Linked DNA regions of Homo sapiens: regions 1, 2, 4 and 5 are each reported to be linked to region 3. The links are microRNA targets in miRTarBase. Many come from high-throughput screens and were not tested one by one. Region 3 holds a microRNA gene; each other region holds the end of a gene's coding sequence.

Region 1 (5,030 bases), not on the chromosome of region 3:
TGAAAAAAATACCTTTTAAAATGTCATTAAATATGGCTTGAAAGGAGCTATTACAGATAACAAGCCATGAATGAGGAGAAAGACTCTATGTCCAGATGAAAGACTATCTGGGCCTGAAACCATCAAGAGGTCAGGCTGTAAACAGCTCCAGGACTAGCAGGACATTGAAAAGGTTCTGTAGGAATTCATTACAAAGATAAGAAGCAAACTGGCTGGGCATGGTGGCTCACACCTGTAATCCCAGCACTTTGGGAGGTCGAGGCAGGCAAATCACTTGAGGCCAGGAGTTCAAGACCACCCAGACAAACATGGTGGAACCCCGTCTCTACTAAAAATACAAAATTAGCCGGATGTGGTGGCACATGCCTGTAATCCCAGCTACTTGGGAGGCTGAGGCAGGAGAATCGCGTGAATCTGGGAGGTGGAGGTTTCAGTGAGCCGAGATCGCACCATTGCACTCTAACCTGGGCAACGAGTGAAACTCCGCCTCAAAAAATCAAAACAAAACAAAAAAAGAGGCAAACAAGAACTAATGTCCCCAGAAACCAAGGTCATAGAGTTCTAGAACTGCTAAGATAAAATGACCTTAGAAATCATCTAGCTCAATGGTTCTGAAGGAAAAAAGGTAGACTTCCTTCTGAACACTGGAGCCAGCCTTTCTTGGGATGCCCTCAGTTCCTACATTTTTGTGTCTATCAGAATTACAGACTGCTAGGCCCCATCTTCAGTTTCTAATTGAGTAGGTCTAGGATCGAGCTTGAAAAGATGCATTTCTAGTATGGTAGTTGATGCTAATTTTGTTGGTCCAGGGACCGCACTTTGAGAATCACTGATTTAGTCTCTCATTCTACTGATTAGGCAAATTAGGCCCTAGGAGATAAGACAACATTCTCAATAACATGTTACAAGTTAGAGAATGAAAATTACATTCTGATTCTCCTCCAGATTCTTCTGAGGAACTGATTGTAATCTCATAGGTGCAAAAAGAATAAACCAATTTTAAACTGATATAAAGTGTATTTTTAAACATTTATTTATATATTGGTCCTACTGTTTCAAAATATTTTCACCCTTCTGGTCCATGAATAAAAATCCTTATTTGAATGCAAAATATTAATGTATTCTTGCTGAGAAGCCATCATGGGAAGTTACAGAAGTGACAAATAAATTAATTGAGCATGATAGAATTCTAATGAAGTAAATAATTCTTGAAAGTGCTCTATGAAGTAGACAGTTGTGTGTTTTTGGTATTCAACCCAAAATAATTCATATTTTGCTATTTTTAATGCATTTCTGATTTCCATGCATTTTTAATTCATTTTTATTTCTTTGTAGAGAAAATAACCAGAACATTACAAATAATACTGGAAGTTGTACCAGAAGAAGATAAGTTATGAACTAATGGACTTGAGATCTTGGCAATCTGCCCAAGGGGAGACACAAAATAGGGATTTTTACTTCATTTTCTGAAAGTCTAGAGAATTACAACTTTGGTGATAAACAAAAGGAGTCAGTTATTTTTATTCATATATTTTAGCATATTCGAACTAATTTCTAAGAAATTTAGTTATAACTCTATGTAGTTATAGAAAGTGAATATGCAGTTATTCTATGAGTCGCACAATTCTTGAGTCTCTGATACCTACCTATTGGGGTTAGGAGAAAAGACTAGACAATTACTATGTGGTCATTCTCTACAACATATGTTAGCACGGCAAAGAACCTTCAAATTGAAGACTGAGATTTTTCTGTATATATGGGTTTTGTAAAGATGGTTTTACACACTATAGATGTCTATACTGTGAAAAGTGTTTTCAATTCTGAAAAAAAGCATACATCATGATTATGGCAAAGAGGAGAGAAAGAAATTTATTTTACATTGACATTGCATTGCTTCCCCTTAGATACCAATTTAGATAACAAACACTCATGCTTTAATGGATTATACCCAGAGCACTTTGAACAAAGGTCAGTGGGGATTGTTGAATACATTAAAGAAGAGTTTCTAGGGGCTACTGTTTATGAGACACATCCAGGAGTTATGTTTAAGTAAAAATCCTTGAGAATTTATTATGTCAGATGTTTTTTCATTCATTATCAGGAAGTTTTAGTTATCTGTCATTTTTTTTTTTCACATCAGTTTGATCAGGAAAGTGTATAACACATCTTAGAGCAAGAGTTAGTTTGGTATTAAATCCTCATTAGAACAACCACCTGTTTCACTAATAACTTACCCCTGATGAGTCTATCTAAACATATGCATTTTAAGCCTTCAAATTACATTATCAACATGAGAGAAATCACCAACAAAGAAGATGTTCAAAATAATAGTCCCATATCTGTAATCATATCTACATGCAATGTTAGTAATTCTGAAGTTTTTTAAATTTATGGCTATTTTTACACGATGATGAATTTTGACAGTTTGTGCATTTTCTTTATACATTTTATATTCTTCTGTTAAAATATCTCTTCAGATGAAACTGTCCAGATTAATTAGGAAAAGGCATATATTAACATAAAAATTGCAAAAGAAATGTCGCTGTAAATAAGATTTACAACTGATGTTTCTAGAAAATTTCCACTTCTATATCTAGGCTTTGTCAGTAATTTCCACACCTTAATTATCATTCAACTTGCAAAAGAGACAACTGATAAGAAGAAAATTGAAATGAGAATCTGTGGATAAGTGTTTGTGTTCAGAAGATGTTGTTTTGCCAGTATTAGAAAATACTGTGAGCCGGGCATGGTGGCTTACATCTGTAATCCCAGCACTTTGGGAGGCTGAGGGGGTGGATCACCTGAGGTCGGGAGTTCTAGACCAGCCTGACCAACATGGAGAAACCCCATCTCTACTAAAAATACAAAATTAGCTGGGCATGGTGGCACATGCTGGTAATCTCAGCTATTGAGGAGGCTGAGGCAGGAGAATTGCTTGAACCCGGGAGGCGGAGGTTGCAGTGAGCCAAGATTGCACCACTGTACTCCAGCCTGGGTGACAAAGTCAGACTCCATCTCCAAAAAAAAAAGATTATATATATATATATATGTGTGTGTATGTGTGTGTGTGTGTGTGTGTGTATATATATATATATATATATACACACACACACACACACTTTTTATATATATATATATATATATATAGTGGAACTTACAAATGAGAGTAATATAATGATGAAATTTTGAACTGTTATTTATAAACATCTAAGGTAAAATGGTTAGTCATGGCCAGAGTATGTTTCATCCTTTAATTTTTGTCCATTTGAAAATAAGGATTTTTGAAAGAATTATACCAATTAAAATTATTAAAGGCAAACATAGAATTCATAAAAAATTGTCCAAAGTAGAAATGATGACCTATAATTTGGAGCATTTCCAATTCAGTAATTTCAATTTTGCTCTTGAAAACATTTAATATATATCCAAGACTGACATTTCTTTAGCTGAACCTAACGTTTGGGTCTCTGAGTGAATTTATAATAACTCCTTCCTTCCTTAGCATAGGGTTTTCAAAATTTGATTTATAATTCCTATTTCCAGTAAATATTGTTCATTTGTCCACATCTCTCCCTATGATATGTTGCTGGAGGTAAGAATTTCTTTCATATTCCTATTTTTTTTTTCCCCATAGACTAGGCTCATAGAATTTAAACAAGCAAATTTTCCTGAGCTTTTTCTTGCCAAATGAAAGAAGACTGGTAAATTCTCATAGAGAGGTTTGTGTAGTTCTTGGCTCTTCCTGGGGTTAATGTGCTTATATTCACAGTGGCAAATTGGTCTCAGACTTTAATTTATTTATTTTTGATTTGAATTTCTCTTTAAAAGTATCAATTTAAAAGGTAACTAGAATTATTCTTTCTCATTTTCAAAAGTGATTTTTGCATTATTAAATTTCCCTGCCATTGTAATGCCATTTCACGCAGAAAAAAAGTCAGCCAGTAATTAAGAAAAAAAGTGATGGAGATTAAGTAGTATTTTGGCTTATTTTTAGGACTCATCATGAGAAGACACAGTTCCTTTAATCAGGAAATTAATATCCATAATTTTCACTCAAAATTGCAGTATGTAAAGCAGATTCTCAAAAACTCTCCTGAACACTTATTTATATATATGTTTTTATATAAGTAAAATTTTTCTCATATTTTTATACGATATGCACACACACACATACATGCACATACTACTTACTACATGTTCTGTACTTGTACTTTGTACCATGCATATTCAAATGTTTATATACATAAGTTTATTATAACATAAACAGTAAAAGTAATGAATACTGTTTAAAATAACTAATATAGTATTTTTTAATTTTTGTGGGGATGGATTCTCAAATACTTGTGATTTTAAAAGATTCTAAAGCTAAAACACAACTTGATTTTAAAAAGAATGATTCTCCTTACACAATTATAAATATTTGCAGTAAATATTTTCCTTATAATACTGTTTTGACCCCATTTAAAAAGTATTAGATTATATTCCTTTGATCCAATGAAAACTGAACCTTATAAATGGTTAGCTGAAAGTAGACCTTATTCTTGTCCTTCTTTAGAAGAGTAAAGATTTGTCCTAGGGAAGATGGCTGACTTCGGTTCCCAACATGCGTATGCATTTAGACTGTAGCTCCTCAGCCCTGTGGACACAAAATTTGGACAGCTTATTAGGTTACGTTAGCAATGCATGACGGTTTCTCCAACACTAAGATATTCACGTTGAAACAGATTTCCTGTTCGTCTTATGTGTCTGGTAAAATTGTTTCCCCAATTACAATTTGACATATCAATAGAGGGTTAACAAGAGTATAATTACATAACAGAATTCCTCATGAACTGTAATCAGTCTACAGGAAAATCATTATTTTATCTTGATTTGCAGATGAATATACTGCTAAGAAAGGGAGCAACTCTGACCTTTGTTAAAGTTGATCTTTTGTAATTGAGGTATAAGGTATGAAAAGATAAAAAACCGAAGGCCAGAGAATCAGGAAATGAAAGATAGTATGGACTGAAGGTAACAATATTTTAATG
Region 2 (3,000 bases), not on the chromosome of region 3:
GGGGCTGAGCCCATGAGCAGGAGCTCAAGGAGCTGCAGGTCTGAGGCCAGACCTGTTTAATTCTATCCCACAGAGTCGCTGCCCAACGTGGTGGTGAATGGTGTGCTCCAGGGCCTCTACAGCTTCAGCATCAGCCCAGATAAAGCCCAGCCAAAGGCGGCCTGTCACCCTGCTCCTCTGCCACCGATGCCCTGATCAGTCCAGAGGCCTTTGGCTGCCTCCTAAGAAAGTCATGTGCCTCTGTCCTATGAACTCCATATAAGGCTGGGTCCTCCTTTGGCCTGGACCCAGGACTTAATTACCCAGTGCCCAGTTGTGCCACATTCCCACTCAAGGCTCAGAACTTGGCTCGCATTGGTAGCTGGAGGTGGTAGAATTTGTATGCTCTTAGAGCCCAACAGCCAAGGCAGGGTCAAGAAGATAAGTAATAAAAGAGGAAGTCAGCCAGGCGCGGTGGCTCATGCCTGTAATCCCAGCACTTTGGGAGGCCAAGATGGGTGGATCACCTGAAGTCAGGAGTTCGAGACCAGCCTGACCACCATGGAGAAACCCCGTCTCTACTAAAAATACAAAATTAGCCGGGCATTGTGGTGGTGCATGCCTGTAATCCCAGCTACTCGGGAAGCTGAGGTAGGAGAATCTCTTTTTTTTTTTTTTTTTTTTTTTTGAGACGGAGTTTCACTCTTGTTGCCCAGGCTGGAATGCAATGGCACGATCTCGGCTCACGGCAACCCCCGCTTCCCGGGTTCAAGCAATTCTCCTGCCTCAGCCTCTCGAGTAGCTGGGATTACAGGCATCCGCCACCATGCCCGGCTAATTTTTGTATTTTTAATAGAGATGGGTTTCACCACGTTGGCCAGGCTGGTCTTGTACTCCTGACGTCAGGTGATCCACCCGCCTCGGCTTCCCAAAGTGCTGGGATTACGGGCGTGAGCCACCGTGCTCGGCCCAAGGCAGGAGAATCTCTTGAAGCCAGGAGGCGGAAGTTGTGGTGAGCCGAGATCGCGCCACTGCACTCCAGCCTGGGCAACAAGAGTGAAACTCCGTCTCAAAATAAATAAATAATAAAGGAAGAAGTCAGCTGGGTGCAGAGGCTCATGCCTGTAATCCCAATACTTTAGGAGGCCAAGGCAGGAGGATGCTTGGGTCTGGAAGTTTGAGACCAGCCAGCGCAACATAGTGAGACCTGTCTCTACCAAAAAAAAAAAAAAAAAAAAAAAATCAATTTAGAGGTAGGCTATGAAAAAGTACAGATACATCCCTTAACATAGACTGGAGGGTGGTGGCAAGGGGAGCAAATGTGGAGGCCCAGTAGCTGGCAAAGTTTAGAAGCAGGGGGCAAAAGCTCCTGCCTGACTTTTCCTGGGTAGCTCCTGGGTCAAAATTTCAGGCAGGATCCCAGGGAAGGGGCAGGCACCCATTGCCACAGGAGAGTTGCAGGCATGTTGGGATGTAGGCCTAGGGGAGGTGCTGCAGGCTCAAGAACCAGGCCCACACATTATATATTAAAAAAAAAAAAACCCACATTTTTTTTTATTGGTCAGTGTTGGTAGGAGTTTGTTACAAAAGTGAGTCCATGGGCCTGTGGAATGTGAGGGGAGTGGGTCCGCTCCACCAGATGCCAGCACCGGGGCCAGTGCAGCTCAGAGCCCTGTGGCGGACTACAGGGCCTGCACAGACGGTCACTCAAAGAAAGATGTCCCTGTGCCCTACTCCTTGGCGATGGCAAAGGGCTTCTCCACCTCGATCTTGCCGCAGTCTGCGATGATCACATCCTTCAGGGGTTTATCCCGGCTGTCTGTCTTGGTGCTCTCCACCTTCCGCACCACCTCCTGGAAAAGAAAGGTGGAAGCAGGAGGGCATGGTGGATCAGGAGGTCCACCGCTCAGGAGAAAGGCCCCAGCGTATGGCTCAGGAGGGCTAAGACCCACAAGTGATCAACAGCACACAAAACTGGAGGCACCAAAATTCTAACAGACTCCTGGCCAGAGCAGGGAGAATGCAGATTTGACGAGGGGGTACAGGAATTTTGTTCCTTTGAAGTAAGACCCAGGTTGGGCCAAGGGTGAGGAGGAGGAAGAGGGTGACCAGGGCATGTGGCTTCTCAGGGACATTGCGTTCAGCTGCACTCTGTATACCTCAGGGGTGGGACCAGCACGTCACTGAGTGAAGGAGGGGAGGGAGGCTCTGGCAGTTGTGCAGCCTTCCTGGCTGGGCTCTGAGGGGGCTGGAAGAATTTAGAACCTTGGAGGCATGGAGGTACAGGGTTTATTCTGGACAGGAGCACTGGGCTGCATCTGTGGGTTGGGTCCTTTTGGGAAAGGGATGGACACATGGAGCTCCTGCCCTGGGGTCTGTGTTGAATCCCCGGTGAGGATTGCCCAGTAGTAGCCCTTGCTTCCACAACTCACCATGCCCTCTAGAACTTTGCCAAACACCACATGCTTGCCATCTAGCCAGGCTGTCTTGACTGTCGTGATGAAGAACTGGGAGCCGTTGGTGTCTTTGCCTGCGTTGGCCATGCTCACCCAGCCAGGCCCGTAGTGCTTCAGTTTGAAGTTCTCATCGGGGAAGCGCTCACCGTAGATGCTCTTTCCTGGGAAAAAAGACAGAGCAGGTCAGGGGCGCTGGATTGCGCCAAACCAAGCAGACATTCGGGGCCAGGACTGAGGGGGCTTAACCTGTCCTCTGTGCCAGGCTAGGCTGGAGTGGACTACAAGGACATAAAAGCAGCGTCCTTCCTATCTTCTGGCCTCAGAGCCAAGCCATGCTGACTGAGGCCAAGTGGGGCATCAGGCCAGGCTGATGTGGTGAACAGCTCACAGAAGGATTACTTTGAGAAGATAGTTTTGTGGCTTTTAAATAAGGCGCATGTTATCAGCTCCCCTTAGCTATGGCCCAGGCCTGCCACGGAGGGACTTTGGTGGAGGGAAGTGCCGTGCAGGATGCAGGGGAGTCAACAGGGTCGGAACTCTCCAGAAAAGGAGGACTGCTGTGGCT
Region 3 (5,030 bases):
ACATTCTTATATGGCTCATCCCTCTCTAATTTACAGGTTTTCCCTCAGAATCCACTGACAAAGCAGATGGGGAGATGAGGATATTGATCGCATACTGGCGTGATTAACCCAGGTTCTACACAGATTCGACTGTGAAGCATGAGATTTCACAAAATAACTAGGCCAAAGGAGGCTGCAGGTACAGGACAGAACTTTAGACTTAAGAGATCCATGTTGAGTTGTGGCTGGAGGACCAGACGATTCCAGAACCCTTTAGACTCTGTTTGTCAAACCGATCATCTTTGCCCCATGTTGTATGGATCAAATGAAATGGCATGTGATATGGTTTGGCTGAGTCCCCATCCAGATCTCGGCTTCAATTGTATCGCACAGAATTCCCACGTGCTGTGGGAGGGACCCAGGGAAAGGTAATTGAATCATGGGGGTCAGTCTTTCCCCTGCTATTCTCATGATAGTGAATAAGTCTCACGAGATCTGATGGGTTTATCAGGGGTTTCCACTTTGGCTTTTTCCTCATTTTCTATTGCTGATGCCACGTAAGAAGTGCCTTTCATCTCCCGCCATGATTCTGAGGTCTCCCTAGCCATGTGGAACTGTAAGTCCAATTAAACCTCTTTTTCTTCCCAGTCTCGGGTATGTCTTTGTCAGCAGCATGAAAACACAGACTAATACAGTGTGCATGAGCGTGATCTGTATAACAGTAGAGCCCTCTATTAATGCCTGTTCAATTAGAGCCTTTGCCAAAAAAATACACACAAAAAGGAATGTCAGTGTCTCAATTATTTCAGGGAGTCTGATTCTCTTCTTGACAGTAGATGGTGCCAGGAGGGAAGAAATGAGAGGTGGTAAGAGATGCAGGGCAGGCAGGGGTGCTCTTCTTCTTCTTTGGACAGAGGCATCTCATGACCTTGAAGCCTTTGTAGTGTATCATAAATGTGTGGGCTGCATTCAGGTGAGGCTTTCCAGCAAGGGACTCAGAATTATTTCGCAAAGTTTTGCTCATTTGGCTCCCGTTTGGAACAATTACAATGGTCCCAAAATATAATGCGAGCCAGTGAATGCCCATCTCTGGAAATAACATCAGACACATTTAATTTAAAAGTGTCTTCAATGCCTAGGACAGTGTCAGGCACACGGTAGTCTCTACACATATTTATTTCATAAGTGAATGGTTGAATGGTTGAATTTGTTTCTGATGGTTGATCTAACCCTGTCTATTTGATTAAACATGTCCTACTTCATTTAACCAAGCCTGGGGAGGGAAGCTTTAGTCTGGCACAAACGAAACCTACTCCTGACTTTAGACACCTCTCAGAGACAGAATGGGTTCCAAACCAGAGCACCTGGCTGGGCCAACTGTCCTAGAAACTGCATGGGTCCCAGATTTGCTATGGCAGCTCACACATGCTTCATAAACAATTTTCTGATGGTAATTCACTGATGCAAGAGGAAGAAAGGCCTAGTGTACGAATTCAGTAATCAGCCTAGTAATTGATTGAAATCAGTAGAAATCAAACATATTCTAGAATTTCTGAAACGTCAGTGAAACCATGTGTAAGTTTATTAGAAAGTTGGATTTTTTAACGACGAAAAGAGAAGGACCCACACACCTTAATTTTGTACCTATAAGCTTGCGGTCTGTCTGCATAACATAGATTTAGCCCAGTCTTAGCCTTCTGCGTCTAACACTTTCCTAACTATTCATTTTAAGTCTATAAGCATGGGTTAAATGATTACCTCGTGCCTGGCCTTGTGTTGGGGGCTCTGAGGAACTCTGCAATCTTTTTATTTTCATTTTTTGAGACAGGATCTTGCTCTGTCACACAGGCTGGAGTGCAGTGGTACCATCACAGCTCACTACAGCCTCAACCTCGTGGGCTCAATTGATCCTCCCACCTCAGCCTCTCAAGTAGCTGAGATTACAGGCACATGCCACCATGCCTGGCTAATTTTTGTAGTTTTTGTAGAGACACGGTTTCACCATGCTGCCCAGGCTGGACTTGAACTCCTGAGCTCAAGTGATCCGCCTGCCTTGGCCTCCCAAAGTGCTGGGATTTCAGGCGTGAGCCACCGTGCCTGGTCTGCAATCTTTTTATTGACTTGGGAAAACAAGAAAATTAATCACCAGCTAAGGTATGTAACAACAGCATGTGAGAGGCAGGGTTCAGCTAACCATATTGGTTATGAGTGCAAAAGAGCCAGACTTTATTCAGTAAGTACACAAGATTGAGAAGACTGATATCAGATGAACCTTCTTGCTCAAAGCAAACGATGCCAAGACATTTATCGAGGGAAGGATTGCCTAGCAGTAGCTATTTAGTGTGATAATGGCGTTTGATAGTTTAGACACAAACACCATTGTCACACTCCACAGCTCTGCTAAGGAAACTCTGTAGCCACGAAGGTGTTAACTTCACCTCCACATTCCACCATTGTCACTGATAATAGGGGAACCTTGTCAGCTCCACATATTGTGACCTAAGCAGAGAAAAGAAGCATCACGGGTACAAGCATCTTGAGCAATGGGAAGAGCTGAACACTCTCAATGAAAGGCTTCTGTGTTCTGGAACAGTAGAGTAGTAGAGGGGTCCACTGCCTGTGTTCCACTGCCACCCAGCAAACCCCTTCTGCAAAAACTTCCTGTGAAAATGGACAGGAACTCTGTTTGCAACAATTTTCTAAAATGGCTGAGAGAGAAAGAATCTCTAGAGGGAATAGATTTCTGGAAATAAATACTTATTGGAAGACTACATTATAAATGAGAATAATCTGGCCGAATGAATGGATACTCTCCAACTCTCACCTCTTCACCTACTTCCCAATCCATCATCAGTAAATGTGATCAATTCTGCAGTCTAGGAAAATTAAAATTATTTTATATGGGGATACAGCAGTTAGATGTGTTGTGATCTACTCTCCGTGGCATCTATTGGATATAAAGGCATCTGGTCTTGCTCAAATGTTCAATCTTCTTGACCACAGTCATTTTCCACCATGGCGGTGGGTGGGAGATGAGGGGAGAGAAGAAAGAGAGGAAGATGGAGAGAGAGGAAACGAGTCCATTTTTAGTTCATGATACTCATTTTCTAGCAAAAAGGGAGCTCCAAATAAATCCCTACAGGATTTACTTGGCTTTCCTGTTAAAGATGGTTTATAATTGTTATGTGAACTCCTGCCCACCATGGAGAATGAGAGGAAATAAAGCATTTTACCTACTCCTTCTTTTCCTGCAAATGCTGAAAAGGGAAAGGGTTGGGAGCCAGTTATTTTTTCCCCAGGATAACTGAGTTGTTAACATCTGACCAGAGTCTTGCTTTAGCCCTAAAACCGGCCCATCTTTAACAGCTGTAAATGAACCCTTCCGTATTTTTCAGAAAAAAAAAAAAAAAATTGCGCCTTATTCTCATGTAGATCCTGAAATCACCCTCTTCAAGCTGGACTTGCAGTGATTATCCCCCTGCGAAAGCTGAAAGTCGTTCTGCTCCCATGGGTTGGAGTGTTGAAGTTGCCTCTTTTTTTCTTTCCCTTTTTCACTTTGTGGATTCGTTATCTTCCCCTAAGTGACTGATTTCCTTTGGTTCCTGTCTGTGGCCCTGGCTTTCTTTCATGAAATGTGGTCATTTGCAAGGCAGCAGGCCGTGCCAGTGCTACACATACTCTCTTAGGTGGGACTCGCCTCCTGGGCAGTTTTCCATGACTCAGAGAGAATGACTACGAACCCTAGAACTGCTCTAGGTGGCCCCAGTCACTGCCACAAACCCCTAGCACTCTGGGTGTGGCCAGCAGTGGACACAGGCATGTGGTGGCCCATCTTGTCCTTCCCTTTCCCTACAGCTCCTCCTAACACAGTAGCCAGGCTTGTCCTGCTTAGTCTTTGCTGAGGGACCTAGAACAGAAATCGCCACCTCCTGGTCATACCAGGGCTATCGCTGACCATCCACAAGAGGCTCTAGAAGTCTCTTAGCTCTGCTGGGAAGAAACAGTGAGAGGTGAACAATTCACTGATTAAAAGGGTCCCCGGAGGATGCGCTTGGAGCGCTCTATCCTGGGCAAGGGCTTGGACCCATTTCACTTCTCAGGGCTCCATAGCAGTATCTGAGCATCCTCCACTTCTCCATGGGGGCTCTGTTGGCTTTTGGCTTTGAATAATCTGCAAAATACAGAAAAGGGAAGGAACAGATGGAAGATGAAAAGAGATGAGGAAGTTAATGCATTACAGGTAAATCTTACCAACTCCCCACCCCCCAAATCAACCTTTACAGGTAAATCTTACCAACTCCCCCCACCCCAAATCAACCTCAATTTCTATGGCCCAGAAATCTATCTCCAGGAAAATGTCAAAAATTTGTAGAAAGATTTACCTATAAGGTTGCTCATAGTGGCATTGTTTATAAGGGTAAACATTGGAAACAACCTAAATGTCCAGCTATAGGAGAAGAGTAATATATTTATGATAGACCATAATTATTTAAATTGATTCTGTAGAAAAGTCTGGTAGACTTGGAAATTCAAGATATGTTATTGAATTAAAAAACAGTTTATAAAACAATATACACAGTATGAGTCCCTTTCTGTGAAAAAATGCATACATGCCTGAGGCCAAAACATCAAATGTTAACCATGGTTATCTTTCAGTAGAGAAATTATGGTTTGTTTTCATTTTCTCCTTTTGTGTGCATTTGTTAATTTATGATTCATATGGCACTTTTTTATTGAGAAAAATGAGGATTTAAAAACTTTTAGGCAATTTTCTTTCTGGACTCTCAATACAAATTCCTTCTTGCAAAATACTCTTCTGAAATTGGGAAGGTTGGAACCCATCCTGCTCATATACAACTTGTCACAAGCATGAAAAGTTAGTGCTGTGCTGAGTGGCAGGCCTCAGGCTAATTTTTTAGCAAATTATTAGTGAAATACTTTATTATGCAGTACAATAATTTTATGGTATTATTGCATCAATCACTAAACACATATTGAGTGCCAATCATTTTCTGTCTTGTGAGCAATTTTTAAACATTGCTAAAATGGCC
Region 4 (5,030 bases), not on the chromosome of region 3:
TTTTTTGAGATGGAGTTTCACTCTTGTTGCCCAGGCTGGAGTGCAATGGCACGATCTCAGCTCACTGCAACCTCTGCCTCCCGGGTTCAAGCGATTCTCCTGCCTCAGCCTACTGAGTACCTGGGATTATAGGCACACGCCACCACGCCCGGCTAATTTTGTATTTTTAGTGGAGATGGGGGTTTCTCCATGTTGGTCAGGCTAGTCTCAAACTCCCGACCTCAGGTGATCTGCCTGCCTCGGCCTCCCAAAGTGCTGGGATTACAGGTGTGAGCCACCACACCCAGCCAATTATTTTTTTCTTTAATTAAAAAAATTGTTTTTTTGAGACAGGGTCTTACTCTGTTGCTCAGGCCGGAGTACAGTGGCACAATCAGGGCTCATTGATGTCCTGGGCTCAAGCAATCCTCTCACCTCAGCTTCCTGGGTACCTGGGACTACAGCTGCATGACACTGTGCCCAGCTAATTTTTTTTAAATTTATTTTTTTGTAGAGACAGGGTCTCACTATGTTGTCCTGGCTGGTCTTGAACTCCTGGGCTCAAGTGATCCTCCCACCTCAGTCTTCCAAGAGCTGGGATCACAGCTGTGCCCACATCAAGTCTTTTCGTTTTGTTTTGTTTTTTGAGATGGAATTTCGCTTTTGTCACCCAGGCTGGAGTGCAGTGGCGTGATCTTGGCTCACTGCAACCTCCGCCTCCTGGGTTCAAGCAATTCTCCTGCCTCAGCCTCCTGAGTAGCTGGGATTACAGGTGCACGCCACCACGCCCAACTAATTCTTGTATTTTTAGTAAAGACGGGGTTTCACTGTGTTGGCGAGGCTGAGTCTTGAACTCCTGGCCTCATGTGATCCGCCCACCTTGGCCTCCTAAAGTGCTGGGATTACAGGCATGAGCCACCATGCCCGGCCTCACATCAAGTCTTTTAAAGAAACAATAGCAAAGATTCACATTGTCTTTTAGTTTAGTAAATACCTCATTCATTGTCATATTCACTTAGTTCATTAAATGGACAAAAATATATTAAATCATTTTTTCCATGTGTTAAAACATTCAAGTACATTATTGAAAAGTGGCAATGAAACTCTGTCTCCACCTCTCAAAGAACTGGGATGACAGGCATGAGCCACAGTGCCCAGCCCTGTTTCTGAAGTTTTTACAGAGAAGGAAGGTGACTGGGGATAAACTGGGATTAAGCCTAGATCGCTCCCAGTGCTGTCTGGCTTTTGAATCCTATGTCTCTTAACTGAATAAGATTCTGAAGTCATAAAGATTCAGGGGCTCTCAAGCACAGAGAAGCACTTTCTCCATTCATTATACTCCTTTTCTAAGAGAAATTAACACAGTGATCTGACACCTACTGCAGAATTTTCCAATTAACCGAACTCCTACTACCAGCAATTTATGTGAACAAAAACTTTTGAGACTATTTCCATCAATGTAACTATGTTCAAAAGGCTATTACTAATAGCTGTAAATTAAGGTTTGTAGTGATGAAATAACATCTGAGATTGACAATATTTCAGTGGAAAAGAAAAAAAAAGATAGGTGAAGCAAATACAGCCAAGTTTTATAATTATTAATCTAGGGGATAGGCATTGTGAGGTTCACCGTATTACTCCATGTTACTTTTGTGTGGGCTTGAGATTTTCATAATGAGACTTTTTATTAAAACAAACGAGCTTTAGGAAATACAGTTCATCATTAATATAGGTCTATGGCTTTATGAATAGGACAGAAAGCTTTGCTGAAAGAAATTAAGGCTGATCTTGAATCTGGGCTCCTTACTAGGTTTGCAAAAACCATTTTTCTTTTTCAAAGGAAGGAAATAACACAAATCCATACACTATCTGAGAGGTGAACATACAATAGATTTTTAAACTTTAGCTTAAAATTAGAGAAATCTAATTTTTTCAGAAAAAAAAAATCACCATGTTGTATCCTGACCTGGACACAGAGGCTGTATTACTTGGAAAACGTGAATGTGGATACTAGTTTAGCTTTTAGTTCAGAAGAAATAAGGGAAGAGCGTCGATTCCAAGGATCCAGATTCCTTAATCTTTTTCTCAGATTTAAGGAGTTTTTCTCACAGGGTTTTAACTCTGTACTGTCAGAGGCATGTGAACCAGAGCAACTCCTGTCTTGAATAGCAGCTGGGTAAAATGAGGCTGAGACCTGCCAGGCTGCATTCTCAGATGGTTAAGGCATTCTAGGTCACAGGATAAGACAGGAGGTCGGCACAAGATTCAGGTCATAAAGATCTTGCTGATAAAACAGGTTGCAGTAAAGAAGCCGACTAAAACCCACCAAAACCAAGATGGCAATGAGAGTGACCTCTGGTCTTCTCACTGCTACACCCCCACCAGCGCCATGACAGTTTACAAATGCCATGGCAATGTCAGGACGTTAGCCTATATGGTCTGAAAGGGGCAGGCATGAATAATCCACCCCTTGATTAGCATATCACCAAGAAATAACCATAAAAATGGGCAGCCAGCAGCCCTCGGGGCTGCTTTGTCTATGGAGTAGCCATTCTTTTATTCCTTTACTTTCCTAATAAACTTGCTTTCACTTTACTCTGTGGACCTGCCTGGAATTCTTTCTTGCGCAAGATCCAAGAACCTTCTCTCACGGTCTGGATCAGGACCCCTTTCCTGTAACAGTACTGCCAGTTACAGAAGTAAGCAGATGGAGGTCTCTTTCTGAAGGTCATACCTCAAACAAAATCAATCCTTTTTTGTGGTGCAGAAACCAGTCCACCCCCAGAGGACACAAAATATGCTGGGCTGAGGCCTCTTCCTCCCTGGCCCCTTCTCTGTTCGCCGTCTCCCCTATGGGCCTCTCAGGCTCCTCTCTGCCATGCTTTCCCCACTGGGTCCATCATGACAGCCTACGCTGGGATCTCAGGGATCCAAAAAGCAAAAGCACCCCCTGGGTCTATGGGGACAATCATTCTTGTTCTTATGCAAAGTCTGGCTTGGGGAACTGTAATTTCGATCTAAGTCACTGGTACTGGATTAGAAATAAAAGAGGAGTTAGACAGCAACAAACTCTCCTACTTTATTTATTTTGTATACATTTCATGATCCTGGGGATTACATTGACATTACTTTTGTCTCTACTTTTTCTTCAAATAGAGATTAAGACTCAGTTAAAAATGTACTTTATTAACACTGATGCCATGAAAACTTCTTTTTAAAAATGAGGTATTTGGCTTACTGTCCCAAACAGTAGAGGTTTGGGCAAACTGCAGAAATGGTCTAGTAAGTAAGAAAATGAAAGTGAATACACTGAAACATAAAACAGAAGCAGGATTTGACAATATGCTGCTCTGACACCCTGAGAATCTTTACTGCAGGCAAAATAAATCCACCACCTTTTATCTCTAAAAGCAAAACCCAGCATGATTTCTTCCTAGGGCATACATTTCTATTCAGAAAAGACCACAGAATAAAGAGGTGAGTTAATATGAGAAAGGTAAAGACACTAAGATCATTCTTTTTGCCCCTTTCCCCACCCCAATAAAAAAATACTCATTAAGGGGCCACTATTTCCCTTGCTTTCAAATTATCTTAGAAAATATTTAGAATTACACAACAGCAGCATTTACAAGTGAATTTATATAGAACTGTTGTCAAGGCTCAAAATATCATGAGAGCTCTTGAAAAAAACAGTTGAGGTATTTCACATAAAAAACTGAACAATCAGGTTAGCCACGCCCAAAATGATGATGAAAACGTGGAAGATTAATTTAGGCCATGTCAGACGCTCTTCTTGGTGGAGGGAAATTATATAGATGAGAGATGGGTATATGAATACAAAGGCCAGTCCACATGCTGCTCCTGAATATCTGCAAAATAAAAGCTTTTGGGGTTAATATTCATCTTGCACTTTGCTTTTTACAATTAAGGTAAACATAGTACAATTTAAATCCTCCTCAGTCTGATAGCTCAACAAAAATTATTTTTGATTCATTTGTTGTTGACATAAAACATCTGGGTTTAAAACTTACTTTACTTGCTAAGTTAATATAAAATATGATTTCCTGCTCATCTTTATAGCATCTGCTTAACAAAGACTTTTTATTCATCCCTCAAATCTCTGTAGTTCCTCTGTATTTGGTGATTGTGGCTACTTCCTCAGAAACATCTGGAGCTAGGCCTCCTATCTTTGATCTTTTATAAACTAATTACTCATTCTCAGTTTTTGAGGGACCGTTAGCATCCCGGTTTAAGTATAAGAACAGATAAATGCTACCATGGCATTCAGCATGATTACGAAAGATAATAACAAAAATACTTAAACATGAGACTGTGACAGAGAAATATGCACTTTCTTCTCCTTTTCTCTATACTTGGGTTTTCTTGAGGAACAGTTCAATAGGAACTGGTAAGCCCTTTATATTCAATAAGCATCAGGCTAACAATCTCCCCTTCTTGTTCCTTGTTACTTTCTTAGGTAAGAGTGTTCCAAAAAAAATGACTCCTTCCTGCTGTCCATAGTAAGAGAAATCAGATCATTCTAAATCCCAATTTCCCATGAGAATTTGAGGTACAACTTTATTCCTACTCTATTCATCCTGTCACGTTTTTAGGAAAAGGATATTAAAGAAAGCCATCTAGGGTCTAAATTCTTACTTAAACTCTTACTTTTTGACTACAATTGACATTGAAAAATACTTTTGAGTAGAAATGGATTAAGGAACTTAGAATGGATTAAGGAAGCTCTGACAAATAAAGGACCTCCCAGGTAATCCCAAAAAGTTATACATATATTAAAAATAACTTTTTATTTTGGATATAGAGAGGAAATAAAGTGGAAGATGATGAGAGAAAGAAAAAGAAAATGATGCCTGAGGCTAAGGGATAATGGAGCTTCTAGAGTGAGTTCTCCACCAGAACAAACAGAAAGGGAAGATAATGAGCATCTTAACTGATACCAAGGGGCTGCATTTGAATATTACTAGTTTTAAATACTCATAGGAATTTCATACAATTAAATTAAAACAACAACAACAACAGGAAAAGCCTGA
Region 5 (4,887 bases), not on the chromosome of region 3:
AGTAGAGACAGGGTTTCACCATGTTGGCCAGGCTGTCTCGAACTCCTGATCTCAAGTGATCCGCCTGCCTCTGCCTCCTAAAAGTGCTGGGATTCCAGGTGTGAGCCACCACACCTGGCCAACAATCCTTAAATCTACCTATTCACACACAGATAAACTGCAATAAAACAAACCACTGTCAACTTAAATTGAGTTACTCTCACTTTTCCTCCATGGTGTCTGGTGTGGGGGCTAATTTTGGACCAGACTGTGACCATCAATCATTCTGATTGGTCAGTGCCTCACCACAGGTTTTGTGGGGTTTTTTGTTTTTTTGTTTTACTATCACCCCTGCTAAATGACAGGAATGCTATATATCTGTATACTGCGTAGAAGAAATTAAGACTCTCACATCAAGTCATATTTTAAATATTGGCAAAAGCTTTTTTATTTTTTTGAGACAGAGTCTCGCTCTGTCACCCAGGCTGGAGTGCAGTGGCAGGATCTCAGCTCACTGCAAGCTCCGCCTCCCGGGTTCATGCCATTCTACTGCCTCACCTCCCGAATAGCTGGGACTACAGGCGCCCGCCACCACGCCCAGCTAATTTTTTGTATTTTTAGTAGAGACGGGGTTTCACTGTGTTAGCCAGGACGGTCTCAATCTCCAGACCTCGTGATCTGCCCGCCTCGGCCTCCCAAAGTGCTGGGATTACAGGCGTGAGCCACCACGCCCAGCCTCACAAAAGCTAATTTTTTTAAGATAAAAAACTAACATACATAGAAATTTTCTCCCCTACCCTTTAACAGAGGCCTGTGCACACCGTCACACATTCTATCTTGGAAGCTACTGGAGTGACAATTCCAGGATTATCCAGAAAGGCAGATTTTGGTTAATTACACAGAACCATCTTTCAAGAAGTGGAGATTTCCAAAAGGATCAGCACTCCTAAGTAAAGGATTCCCCAAATATCGGAAGCAGAAGCAGATGAATGACTGGATGATGGCTCACCTGAGATGCAGAAGCAGGGGCAAATGGATTGGATTCAGCTACTTCAAGATCCTTTCCTTTTCTAAGAGCTCTTTAGTATTATGTTGAAGACTAGTAATGAAGGTGGCACCCTTGTTTCTATGCATAAGGAAACTAACAGGTAATAGAGCCAGACTAGTAGTCAAAAGACCTACCATCAAGCTCAGTGACCTTGGGTAAGTCATTTCATCTTCCTGGCTGTGTTTTTTTCATCTGTAAAACATGGGGCCAGAATTTAATAACTTTTAAGGCCCCATACAGCTCTAATATTCTGGGGTTTTATACGACTCTTCTTCATCAAATATTATGTTGGGTTTTAAAACATACCCTTTTAAAAAATTCTTTTAGTTTTTTTGAAATAGAAAGTGTATTTTAAATGCCTTTTTGGTATATATTATAGTGACAAAAGATTTTATTATTTCTTATTAATGTAATGTGTTTTGTAACTATTACATCAACTTTGAAATTCTGGAGTTACATGAACAATTATTCAAAATATTTCTCTATTCAGTTTTCTAAGATTTTATTCGGATTTTTGCATCTATACTCATAAAAAAATCACCTACATTATCTTACATCCTCTTGCATCATCTTTCTTACATAATTTTATTTTTAAAATGAAAATCCTGTTTACTTCATTAAATGAATTAGTGTCTTATGATCATTTTCTATATTTTGGGAGTATAGGGGTTTTTTGTTTTGTTTTGTTTTGTTTTTTGAGATGGAGTCTTGCTCTGCCACCCAGGCTGGAGTGCAGTGGCTCGATCTCGGCTCACTGCAACCTCTGCCTCCTGGGTTCAAGCAATTCTCCTGTCTCAGCCTCCTGAGTAGCTGGGATTACAGGCATGTGCCACCATGCCTGGTTAATTTTTGTATTTTTTAAGTAGAGACGGGGTTTCACCATGTTGGCCAGGCTGGTCTCGAACTCCTGACTCTGTGATCCGCCTGCCTCGGCCTCCCAAAGTGGTGGGATTACAGGCGTGAGCCACCACACCCGGCCAGGAGTATATGTTCTTTGACAGTTTGGAAAAGTCTCATGAAAGCTTTCACAAGCAAATGCCATTTTAATTGGTTATTCTTAGTTTGTGGGTTATTTCTCATAACCAATCTGGAATATTCTCTGTTAAAAGTGTCAGTTTCATAATTTTTTATCTTTATAAGGAGCTGGGCATATATTAATCACATTTTTTGCAGCAAACTGATAACTCTTTTCAAATCTCATTGATTTTATGTATTGCCTATTCAATTACGAATTTACTAATTTGTACTTTTCTGGCTGAGCTGACACTTTACCCATTTAATCTACAAGAACTACTTAATACTTTTTATTTTTTCTAATTTGTTATTTTTTTCTAATTTGTTTAGTTTTATTATTTCCATTTCCATTCTTTCTAAATTCTAACTATATACCCCTTAAAAAAAACAAAAATATTTCCACTCTATCCCTAATACAGGGATTTAAAGCATGCTTATTTTCTTATAGTACTGCTTTGGTATTATCACACAAATTTTCTTTTATGGCATTTGAACATTTGTTATTTTAAAAATATTATCTTCCGGCACAACCTCTACAACTTAGACGTTATTTAGTGAAGTATTTTTTCCATGTTTTTGATCACCATTTAATTCTATGTATGTTGTTTATTTCCATAAAAAAACAAACCATCAAATAATGTATACATTTCCACCTGTTCTAACATTTCTGGCTACTTTTGTTTCATGTATTTTGTTACGATGTTCTCTAGTGACTAAATTCAGTACAAATACGTTTTCATTATTTAATATAAATTTTATCTTATATTTACTATTAAAATTTTGATTGTGAAAGGTATTATTTTATCACATACATTGTAAGCAATCACTGCTTCTTTAACATTTGTTCCAGCATGAAGAAAACTTAGACCATCCCTTCATTTTAATTTTTTTCTAACTTAAGTATTTCTTTGCTTCTTGTAATGACTGCACTTAGCTTTGTTTTCTAAATTAGTGGTCTTTTCAAAGGTACATTGAGTCCATCTGTATTTAATAATACTGCAATTATTAATACATGTTTATAGAATTAGTACATAAATTAATGCCTTTTCAGATCCTTCACATCCAGCTTTTTTACCTTAAGTTAATATCCATATGTATGAGAAATAAACGTAATCTGATAATGCTTAGTTAACTTGATGATTGGACAATAACAATATGAACTATATTGGATTCACTGTTACTTCCTCTTTATTCCTGCAGTGAAAACAATATTTTCTTATGTCAGATTTCTCTCAATCTCTTAGTCAATGAAGACCTGAACTACAACAATATAGAGTCCCATTTTAAATTCAAACAAAGATATTTAGGTTTGACAACAGACTCATGGTAATGTCATTTAAAAAGATGGATCCAATGAACACAGACAAACATCAAAGTTTTCACCATGGCACAAACCTCTGCCACAATCACTCATAATAATTCAACTGCCTTCATATTTGGCAGTAACGTCATGCAAGTGAATTTGCTGATGATTAGCAAAATTACAAAATGAAAGTCAAGGTCACTTAATCAAGAATTACAGCAACAAAGAAATTCTAGGAATGCAGGTCAAGGCAAGAGGCTGCAGCTGGCCTGATAATGATACCACTTGCCTAATGTTCATTTAGGAATTTGCTATCACAAATAAAACACGTATCTCCTCTGAGTTACTAGAACAGAAAAGGAAACAATCAGGTATTACTTATCACCATTATATGACCATGAAATTAAAATATTTCCTTAATAATGATTAAGAGAAAAAAATCATTCTCATGTGTTCATAATAGAAGCTCTATTTCTGAATTTAAAACACTACTCAGTATTTGCTTAAGTACTGAAATTTAGACAATATAGCTTTTGACATATTAAAAGTTCTATAGGAAAAACTAAGACCTCTTAATTTTGCTTTAATATCAAACTAAACAGAGCAGATGAAAAAATTCAATAAGAGCATGGGTTAATCCGATTCAAGAAGTGCTTCCAAAATTCAACCACCTCGCTTCTTCTTAGGAGAAACTGTACATCAACACAGAACTTTTCTTTTTTTTTTCTTTTTTTTTTTTTGGAGATGGAATCTCACTCTGTCGCCCAGGCTGGAGTGCAGTGGCGCGATCTTGGCTCACTGCAACCTCCACCTCCTGGGTTCAAGCGATTCTCTTGCCTCAGCTTCCCGAGTAGCTGGGATTACAGGCGCCCGCCACCACGCCCAGCTAATTCTTTGTATTTTTAGTAGAGACGGGGTTTCACCATCTTGGCCAGGCTGGTCTCGAACTCCTGACCTCGTGATCCACCCGCCTCGGCCTCCCAAAGTGCTGGGATTACAGGCGTGAGCTACCGCGCCCGGCCCTAACACAGAACTTTTCTAACTTAACTTTTGGAGAAGAAAATAGAAAACCAAACCCAGAGGACAGCTGTGTAAGGTATTTACTCCTCAGCATTAGGCAAAGGAGTCCTACAGCACTCTTACATGTCATTCTATTTCAACAGATGATTCAACTGGTCCTGTAGATCCGATGACTGTTCAACACTAGGAATTAGAATAGAGACAGGGTTTATCTGAAATGAGCAATAATAAAGACATCTTTGTACAACTATTTACAAATTTTTTTTTTCCATTACAGACAGGGTCTCACTATGCTGCACAAGGCAATCTCAAACTCTGGGCTCAAGCAATCCTCCAGCCTCAGCCTTCCAAAGTCCTGCAATTACAGGCATGAGCCAGCCACTACACCTGTCCTGTACAAGCTATCTGTACTTTAATGCATAAATACTGTTGCATGTAAATCAAAATTTATATTGGTCCAGTTGTGTCCCAGAAGTGTTTAAACTCTGAAGAAAGGTTTGCAAAGCCAATTAGTAATGTAAAC

What was found. The annotated mature microRNA hsa-miR-122-5p reads UGGAGUGUGACAAUGGUGUUUG and lies in region 3 at 2,350-2,371, opposite strand. An mRNA with a match to its seed (bases 2 to 7 or 8) in the 3' UTR can be bound and repressed. Matches are read on the target gene's strand: a 7mer-m8 pairs with bases 2 to 8, a 7mer-A1 pairs with bases 2 to 7 and ends in A, and an 8mer does both.
Region 1: miRTarBase lists SLC7A11 as a target of hsa-miR-122-5p. The part of its 3' UTR that is shown has no 7-base or 8-base seed match.
Region 2: miRTarBase lists SNX22 as a target of hsa-miR-122-5p. Seed matches in the 3' UTR shown: 7mer-A1 at 1,014-1,020.
Region 4: the mRNA of SLC38A9 is a reported target of hsa-miR-122-5p. The part of its 3' UTR that is shown has no 7-base or 8-base seed match.
Region 5: miRTarBase lists BORCS7 as a target of hsa-miR-122-5p. Seed matches in the 3' UTR shown: 7mer-A1 at 4,115-4,121.

What each region holds. Positions count from the first base shown.
Region 1 is chr4:138,168,323-138,173,352 of GRCh38, reverse strand. SLC7A11 (solute carrier family 7 member 11) reads left to right here. Exons shown (of 12, transcript NM_014331.4): 12 at 1,336-5,030. The coding sequence ends at 1,397. It overlaps SLC7A11-AS1 (SLC7A11 antisense RNA 1), which reads right to left. Exons shown (of 7, transcript NR_038380.1): 4 at 4,535-4,636; 5 at 1,647-1,820. Among named protein-coding and RNA genes, the nearest start is that of LINC00616, 40 kb to the right of the region's middle.
Region 2 is chr15:64,154,314-64,157,313 of GRCh38, forward strand. It overlaps SNX22 (sorting nexin 22), which reads left to right. Exons shown (of 7, transcript NM_024798.3): 7 at 74-3,000. The coding sequence ends at 195. It overlaps PPIB (peptidylprolyl isomerase B), which reads right to left. Exons shown (of 5, transcript NM_000942.5): 4 at 2,412-2,596; 5 at 1,504-1,832. The coding sequence ends at 1,710. Among named protein-coding and RNA genes, the nearest start is that of SNX22, 4.1 kb to the left of the region's middle. RefSeq lists enhancers at 1-98, 1-133.
Region 3 is chr18:58,448,429-58,453,458 of GRCh38, reverse strand. It overlaps MIR122 (microRNA 122), which reads right to left and starts at 2,385; the gene lies at 2,301-2,385. It overlaps MIR122HG (MIR122 host gene), which reads right to left. Exons shown (of 3, transcript NR_170245.1): 2 at 3,919-4,150; 3 at 2,178-2,640. MIR3591 (microRNA 3591) reads left to right here and starts at 2,307; the gene lies at 2,307-2,379.
Region 4 is chr5:55,622,812-55,627,841 of GRCh38, forward strand. It overlaps SLC38A9 (solute carrier family 38 member 9), which reads right to left. Exons shown (of 16, transcript NM_173514.4): 16 at 3,037-3,848. The coding sequence ends at 3,683. Among named protein-coding and RNA genes, the nearest start is that of SLC38A9, 87 kb to the right of the region's middle. RefSeq lists an enhancer at 2,531-3,345.
Region 5 is chr10:102,862,533-102,867,419 of GRCh38, reverse strand. BORCS7 (BLOC-1 related complex subunit 7) reads right to left here. Exons shown (of 5, transcript NM_001136200.2): 5 at 2,459-4,547. The coding sequence ends at 4,496. BORCS7-ASMT (BORCS7-ASMT readthrough (NMD candidate)) reads right to left here. Exons shown (of 15, transcript NR_037644.1): 5 at 4,488-4,547. Among named protein-coding and RNA genes, the nearest start is that of AS3MT, 4.5 kb to the left of the region's middle.